Homo sapiens: one gene and its partner. The protein of the gene in region 2 purifies or fractionates together with the protein of the main gene of each other region. This does not show direct contact. Each region holds a gene or a part of one and is shown on either strand. Other genes may lie near its edges. The genes, in order: RMND5A and ZCCHC2.

Region 1 (3,819 bases), on a different chromosome or scaffold from region 2:
AGCCATTAGCCAGGTATGGTAGCATGTGCCTAGAGTCCCAGCTACTGAGCAGGCTGAGGTGGGAGGATGCCAGGAGGTTGAGGCTGCAGTGAGCCACGATCGTGCCACTGCACTCCAACCTGGGCAACAGAATGAGACCCTGTTTCAAAAAGTAAAATATAAAGAATTTCATAATAATCTTACATTAGTGCCAAAAAAGGTTTTATATTGCACAAAACAACTGGATTTAATGGGCTCAGCTTATCAGTCAAATGACATGCTTGCTCCTGAAACATTTTTTTTGCATAGTTCCTCTTATCCCCAGATCACCCCTGTCCAGGGTGGAAGCACTCATTTCTCAGATCTGGAAGTGTTGGCAGCCAACTCTCAGCTGTGTCCGTCTCTTCAGGACTGTCCTCAGTTGAAGAGAGTCATCTGACCAGAGTCACATCCAGCAATTGCTCCATGTGAGGGTACAAAACCCCAGCCCTATAGGCCCAATTTGGGACAACTCCACGGGCCCACAGCAGCTCCAGAGCTCCTCACGGATGGGAGACACCTTGTTGCCACTCTAATACAGTCCAACTTTCCTCTCTGCCCAATCCTGCTGTTTTCATTCTCCCACAGGTGCTGATGTCAGTAAACTTTCTGCATGTACATTCCCACTTTAGAGTCTTCCTCAGAGAACTTGATGGCATCAGCGCCTCACATTATAGCTAATTGCATCTGTCCACTCCTACGCTAGGATGGAGCACCCTGTGGAATGCACCTTATTCATCTTCATATCCAACACAGTGCCCACAGTGCCTGGCACATAGCAGGTATGCAAAACATTTGTGGAATTAAATGAATAGAAGAGCTAAAAAAGAGTTATTTTCTTACAACAGTTTCTTAAAATGTTTTGGTTTCAGGACCCCTTTATATGCTTAAGTATTAAGGATCTCAAAGAGCTTTTCTTTTTGTGGATTATATCTTTAATACATTAGAAATTAAAATGAGAAACATAAAAGGTGCCGATTAGTTCATGTAAAAATAAAATACCATGCCATTATTGCAAACATTCTTATAAAAAAATAACTACAGTTTCCAAAACAAAAATATATGTGTGAGAAGAGTGGCACTGTTCCAAACTCTCACAACTCTCCTGAATGCCTACCTTAACAGAAAGACAGCTGGATTCTTATAGTTTACTCTGCATTAAATCTATTGTGATACGTTCTTCTGGTTGAGGTAAATGAAAAAAAACCTTGTTTCACACATATGTGTAGTACTACTTTGATCACTTTGGATCATTGTGGATACTCCTCCTTAATACCACACGAAAACTGACTTTTCATAGTTTTGGCCAAAACAGGTAGTAGTTTTCTAAAGGTTCGCTGCAGAGCAGAATCTGAAACTTTACCATTAAACTTTTTGTACCCTGCTACATTAAAATCCATTTGTCTGTCTTGTACTTTGAATGACTCTTTTACTCATGCATGCTTTTGTAAAATCATACTTAATTAAGACCTTTCAAATGTGACAGGCTTGCTTCGTTCACTTAAAAAAATGGCTGGGTGATGTGGCACACAACTGTACTCCCAGCTACTCAGGAGCCTGAGGCAGGAGAATCACTTGAGCCCAGGAGTTTGAGTCCAACCTGAACAACATAGCAAGAATGTCTTAAAAATTTAAGAAAAAAGACAAAAAAAAAAAAAAAAAAAAAGACTGCCAAAAACCTGAGTGTGCGTAACTATGTTAATGATTCTTCCAAGTAAAAACTATTCCAAGGCTGGTGCGGTGGCTCACGCCTATAAACCCAGCACCTTGGGAGGCCAAGGCAGTGGATCGCCTGAGGTCAGGAATTCGAGACCAGCATGGCCAACATGATGAAACCTTGTCTCTACTAAAAATACAAAAATTAGCTGGGCGTGGTGGCAGGCGCCTGTAATCCCAGCTACTCCAGAGGCTGAGGCAGGAGAATCGCTTGAACCCAAGAGGTGGAGGCTGCAGTGAGCTGAGATTGCGCCACTACACTCCAGCCAGGGGACAGAGGGAGACTCCATCTCAAAAAAGCAAGAAAAAAACAAGTAACAAACAAAACAAGTATTCCATGAAAAAAAGTGACCAGCTAGCTCATAACTCAAAACAACATACTTTTTCTCAAGACAATTACCATACTTTGACATGAAACTGAAGTGCTTTATGTGGATTTCCTATTTTGTCATACAAATTATTAAGATGATGTGTACTGAAAGGTCAAGATTTAATAAAACTAATAATTTTAATGTTTCACCAAGAACATCCTTTTTTAAAAAAGTTTTCTGTAGAAATGGAGTCTAGCTGTGTTACCCGGGTGGGTCTTGAATTCCTGGCCTCAAGAGATTCCCCCCACCTCAGCCTCCCAAAGTGCTGGAATTACAGATGTGAGCCACCACACCAGGCCAAGAATATTCTTTTTTTCTTTTCTTTTTTTTTTTTTTTTTTTTTGAGACAGTCTCGCATTGTTGCACGGGCTGGAGTGCAATGGTGCAATCTTGGCTCACAGCAACCTCCGCCTCCTGGGTTCAAGCGATTCTTCTGCCTCGGCTTCCCGACTAGCTGGGATTAAAGGTACCCGCCACCACGTCCAGCTAATTTTTTGTGTTTTTAGTAGAGGCGGGTTTCACTATGTTGGCCAGGCTGGTCTCAAACTCCTGATCTCGTGATCCACCCTCCTAGGCCTCCTAAAATGCTGAGATTACAGACGTGGTTAAGTAAAACTAGCATTTCTTAAACTGCAAGTGTGTGGTGGTGAGGAATCCAGCTATTCGTGGAGTTTGTACCACCGCCCCAACTTGTGCTAAGGCTCTAGCAGTTTAGTCCACCACTGTTTCTGGACCATCTGTACTAATGTCAATACAGTGGAAAAGGCTCTCAGGATCCTGTGAGGTTCATACACCACACTTTCAAAACTGCTTCTCTAAAACAGCATCACTGCCAATTGTGATATCTTTTGAAATACCAATTGCACTCTTCTTTGGAAAGACAAAAGTTATTTTGGCTTTAAACATCAAGAACCAAACAAGTTAAGGGAAGGTGATAATGCAGTGCATACTTCAATAACAGACAGGGCTAATTTCCATACCTGACACTGAGAGGGGACTCCACGGAGAGCCCCAGGAGGGCACAAGCATCCCGTGTAAAGATGTCACAGATATCAGCCCACTGGTTTGCATCAAGTAGGTGAACATATGGTGAGTTCTCAATCCCTTGTCTCAGGTACACAAGGCTTCCCATCAAAACCTGAATGTCTAAAAAAAGCACCAGCAAGAAAGCATTAGTTTGCTTGCAGTAATAAGCTGCGAAAAGCAAGAATACCCCCACCCATACTGATACAGCCTAAAATAATGTATTAACAGGTCTTTTAAAATTCTGGTCCTTAAGCTTGGTTTCTTCCTTCATCCTAAATTAAACAGCATGGAGAGAAAAGGGAAGAAAAGGAAAGCAGTGAAAATACTGAACTTATAATTTAAATTCTTCTCTACAGCATAGTATAATTACCATTACCTAGAGAAGTAACAATTATGTCATCACATTATCTCTGACTGCAGAGTTAATGTTTCCTACACAGTTTCGTGGGGTTGACAGTTGCCACCTTGGCTCTCTGACACTTTGCTGTGGCAAGAGCAGCAGCATACAGCCAGGTGGGGGTGGAAAAGAGCAAGTGCACACCTTGCTCTTTCTCACATCTCCTCTAAGTTTAATATGGAATTCCAAAATCTGCAACATCTCTGACTTCTAAGAGGCTTTAATATTTTTGTTTTTGTCTAGAGCCAGTCAGAACTTTTCCTGTAAGTGATTATCAACTACAACTGTTTA
Region 2 (4,374 bases):
ACTGGAAATACGAGCTCAAGGTTGACAAGGACTCTGCCTCATTGCTACCATAGTGTTTGGCACGCAGCCGAGTACTCAAAACTCACGGAGTGCAGTCCCCCTTTCTCTAGTGGTCACGCAGATTACCTCTATATAAAGTTACTTGGGAGGCCGGGCATGGAGGCTCATGCCTGTAATCCCACCACTTTGGGAGGCAGAGGCAGGCAGATCACTTGATGTCAGGAGTTCAAGACCAGCCTGGCCAACATGGTGAAACCCCGTTTCTACTAAAAATACAAAAATTAGCTGGGTGTCATGGTACATACCTGTAATCCCAGCTACTCAGGAGGCGGAGGCAGGAGAATCGCTTGAATCCAGGGAGGCAGAGGTTGCAGGGAGCTGAGATCCCGCCACTGCACTCCAACCTGGGCGACAGAGCAAGACCCCGTCTCAAAAACAAAAAGGTTATTTGGGGGAAGAACTGAGGAGCATCCAGATGGTAAATAACTTTGGGATTCACTGCCCACCCTGCAGGGAAATGGATTGATCCTTAACCCCAAAATAATTACATACCTAAATAAAACTTTAAAAAAATCGCCATGTATGATGTCCTATCTCCACTTTTACAAAATTTACAATGAGGCACAATTCTTAAGCTGTTTTTCATTTTTTTATTGCTGTTAATTCAAGGAAAAAAGGTTGCATAAAATCCAATCTGTTCTAGAAATATAAGTGGCCTTTCCAGTACATAACATTTCAAATATCAAAGTATATGGTAAACATACAAATAAGGAGAAGGTAACATACCTCCTATGTACAGTACAGTATTTTAAATCATAAAATAAGCTCCATAAAGTACAACTGGCAAGTGATTCACAACGCGGCCCATAAGTGGCTTATCAAAACTCTCACTTGAACAACTCAACTGCAGCTTAACAATTAATTTAATAATGTGGTCCAAAAATACCCAGATCAAATAAAATATATTTAATCAAAATAATTTCCTTTACTTGAACTTTCTTTCTAAATTAAAGCTTTCATCTACCCCTTCACACCCACCCCTTCCCCATAACTCCCACCCCTGAAAGAAAGTTTCAAAATGTACATTGGTGCTATAAATATAAATGCTACTTATGAAGCATGAAATTAAGCTTCTTTTTTCTTCAAGTTTTTTCTCTTGTCTAGCAATCTGTTAGGCTTCTGAACCAAGACCAAATGTTTACGTTCCTCTGCTGCATACCAACGTTACTCCAAACAATAAAAATCTATCATTTCTGCTCTGTGCTGAGGAATGGAAAATGAAACCCCCACCCCCTGACCCCTAGGACTATACAGTGGAAACTGTTCATTGCTGATGAATGCAGCAGTCACCAAAAAATACACCCAATCTTCCAGATAACCTCAGTGCACTTTAGGAAATCAAAAATTACCTGGAAGCAATTTAGTACATAGATTGGCTTTTTAAAAAAACTTTTTTTTTTTTTTAAAAACAGCAGCATTAAACTTAGTGACATGACACCGACATGATTAATACCATCTTAACACACTCAGAATTCCGCCTTTCACATTATAATCAAGCATAGTGGTAAACTGTTATAAAAGTGACTTTGCTATGAGAGACAGGTTAGGGAACAAACAACCTGACTTATGGTAGAAACCCATAGCTCTGTTCAGATTGCAATAAACCATACACATTTTAAACACAACGTAACACTGTAACAGCTGGTACAGGGAAAGAAGAAATCTTCACTCAAGTAGTGTCTCTTTGAGCACAACACGGTGGTAGACAAGTAAAATTGGCTGTAGACTTTCATTACAAACACAAGCACACAGAGAGCGACATTCACACCAGTGTGTTCACTTTGTGTCTCTCTGAAGCAACAGGCTAAAAAAGGATGATGGAAGTAAAAAGTTGGTTTCAGAAAAAGCTTTTTGTCCATTTCGTACGTCATATTTTTTCAGTTTCATATGGTTTGACTTCTTCCTCTCTCTTCCACTTATTTTCATTTCTATTTGGACAACAAGCACTGCATATATGTATTTACGTGACGCTGTTTATTACATATATACACACTATTTTGGGAGTTTGATTCCTCCCATAAGATCAGGGTGAAACATTCTGCCCTTGGTTTATATGCAGAGCAGTTTACAAAAGTGGGGTGAATGCACTGCTGGCTGCTCCTGCTGCGGGCCGGAGACAGAGTGAGGCTGGCTGGGGAGGAAGTGTCGTTTAGGGTGAAAGTGAGAAAAGCTGGGAAGAAGCAAAATTTCTTTTTTTTTTCAAAACCATATGACTGTCACCAGTGTTGTAAAAAAAAGGTCAAATACACAGTTTTAAAGATTCAGTAAACATTGCACACAGCAAGTATTCAGTGTAAAAAAAAAAAAAAAAGCACGCACCAACATTTAAGTTTGTCTGAAGGTTTAAATTACATGTATCATACATATAAGCCTGTTGTTGAACCAGGAGACCAGAGGCTCAAAAGCATTGCATTCTTTCTTGTTTTGGACATTGGTACAAGAGAAATGAAAAATCCCAACTGCATAGAAATCTAGGAAATGTATAGACAAAGAAACAAAATACCTTTCCTTTCCTCCCCTCCACACCCCATGACTCCCCACACTTGAGTGTATTAAGTAGGCAAGCTTTACTCGTTTCAGTCTGCAGAATCCAACGTATCATTAGAAGGGGGGAGGGGAGGTGCGTATCTCAGTCTGTAAGTGCCTAAAATGGGAAAGACAGAACTAAGTCACCGCTTACAAGCAAACGTCATCACAAACCACTACGTACAAGCTATCACACGGGCATGCTCTCCACAAGGCACCTTCGTCAGCTCTAGTGCCACTCCAAATGGCCAATCCGCTCACTTTAAAAAGCAATGTAAAGTTTGTGCTTTGAATTCAATCTAAAAGCTATCAAACTTGATCTTTCTTTAAGAATGCCAAGTAAATATATTCCCAATTTAAGACTTTTTTTGTTTCTGGGTAAGATTTGGCAAAACGACAAAGGTCAAATGCAAGTGAAAATAACAGCCTGAAGTTGACATAAAATTTGGTATCTTACTCAAACATAGGTAAGACCATTTTCTTCTTTCTGGTGGTAGTAATATTAAACTTTGTTCAAATTCCTTTACTCTCAAATCAAAATAGTACTGAACTATTTTGTTCCTGTATTAATGCAATAGAATCTTGGACCTTTTTTTTTTTAACATTTGCTGGGAAGGAAAAGGGTAGCATGGGGAAACAGGCATGAGGCAGCTGGTTATGCAGATATACTAAATAGTTACTCAAAACCTAATGTCAGATAACTAAATTACTTCCTAGGTTTTCAATATTTAAAAATTTTGCTTACTCTATGAAACAGGATTGTAGCTTAAAAAAAAAAAGTGCTGCAAGCAAGAGATTTAACATTACAGAATGCAAATTCCCATCACACTCCTTCAAAAGGGCCTTTAGAGTTTATTCCTTAATTGGAAACTGAATTCCTCTGAACTTCCTTGTGCTCTGTGTGACCTGGGTCTACACTGTTTTTCCAGTTGCATTTTATGATCTGTCACTGAAAACAATATCCATAAACGAAAACACAAACAGATCTTTCTGCTACAACAGAATCCCATGATCAATAAGGAAAGGAAGGAGAAATGAGTGAACTCAAAAACAAGTCCTCTGGGAGTTATTGTGATTACCTTGTTGATTGGCCTCCATGGACGACTGCTTACAGTCCTGTGCATAGTGTCCGCTTACACCACAATTGTAACATGAGACATTCCCATTCTTCTTGGGCCCCGAACCACTGGTGTTGGCAACTACGTTAGGTGCTGGATATACAGGATAGAATCTCCCAAATCCTGCCATCTGCTGCATGCCATAGTTGGCTTGGCTCCCCATGACTGGGTCATGTACCAGTCCATTTGCATATGGAGTCTGAGGCAGAAAAAAAGGAAGTTGGTTTCCATTGCTCTGATGTGCTTGGTTGAGGTAGCTGCCATTGCAAATGGATGGCAGAGTAAAGAATGAAGGGACTCGGTACATTGGTCCAGGCATTGGATTAGGATAATAGTAACTATTTAGCTGAAGGTTTCCATTGGTCCCACAGCTGCACCTTCGCCCACAAGAACCACAAGGACCTGAGCCCATCTGCTGCGGTGGCACTACTGTCCCATTAGCGTTCGTGTTCCCCACAGCACTGATGTAAGAGGTGCTGTCACTCTGCGCGGTACTGTGTGTCAAGGCAGGGCTTGGGCTCGGGGCAGGGCCTGGGGTGTGGGTAGGAACTGCAGGAGGAACAGTTGCCTGGGCCTGGCTGATACCTGCGCTCGCTGGCTGGGGAGAAGTTGCTGCTGTGCTGAGCACACTGGAGTTCTGGCTGGGTAACACGCCGGCAGCAAGGGGAGA

The links.
Region 1: the proteins of ZCCHC2 (region 2) and RMND5A purify together in Homo sapiens (co-immunoprecipitation; one large-scale study listed by IntAct). This does not show direct contact.

Annotation. Positions count from the first base shown.
Region 1 is NC_000002.12:86,765,291-86,769,109, reverse strand, and holds part of RMND5A (E3 ubiquitin-protein transferase RMND5A), read right to left. Parts: intron 3,252-3,819; coding exon 3,086-3,251; intron 1-3,085.
Region 2 is NC_000018.10:62,574,842-62,579,215, reverse strand, and holds the end of ZCCHC2 (zinc finger CCHC domain-containing protein 2), read right to left. Parts: coding exon 3,666-4,374; intron 2,705-3,665; coding exon 2,637-2,704; 3' UTR 637-2,636; downstream 1-636.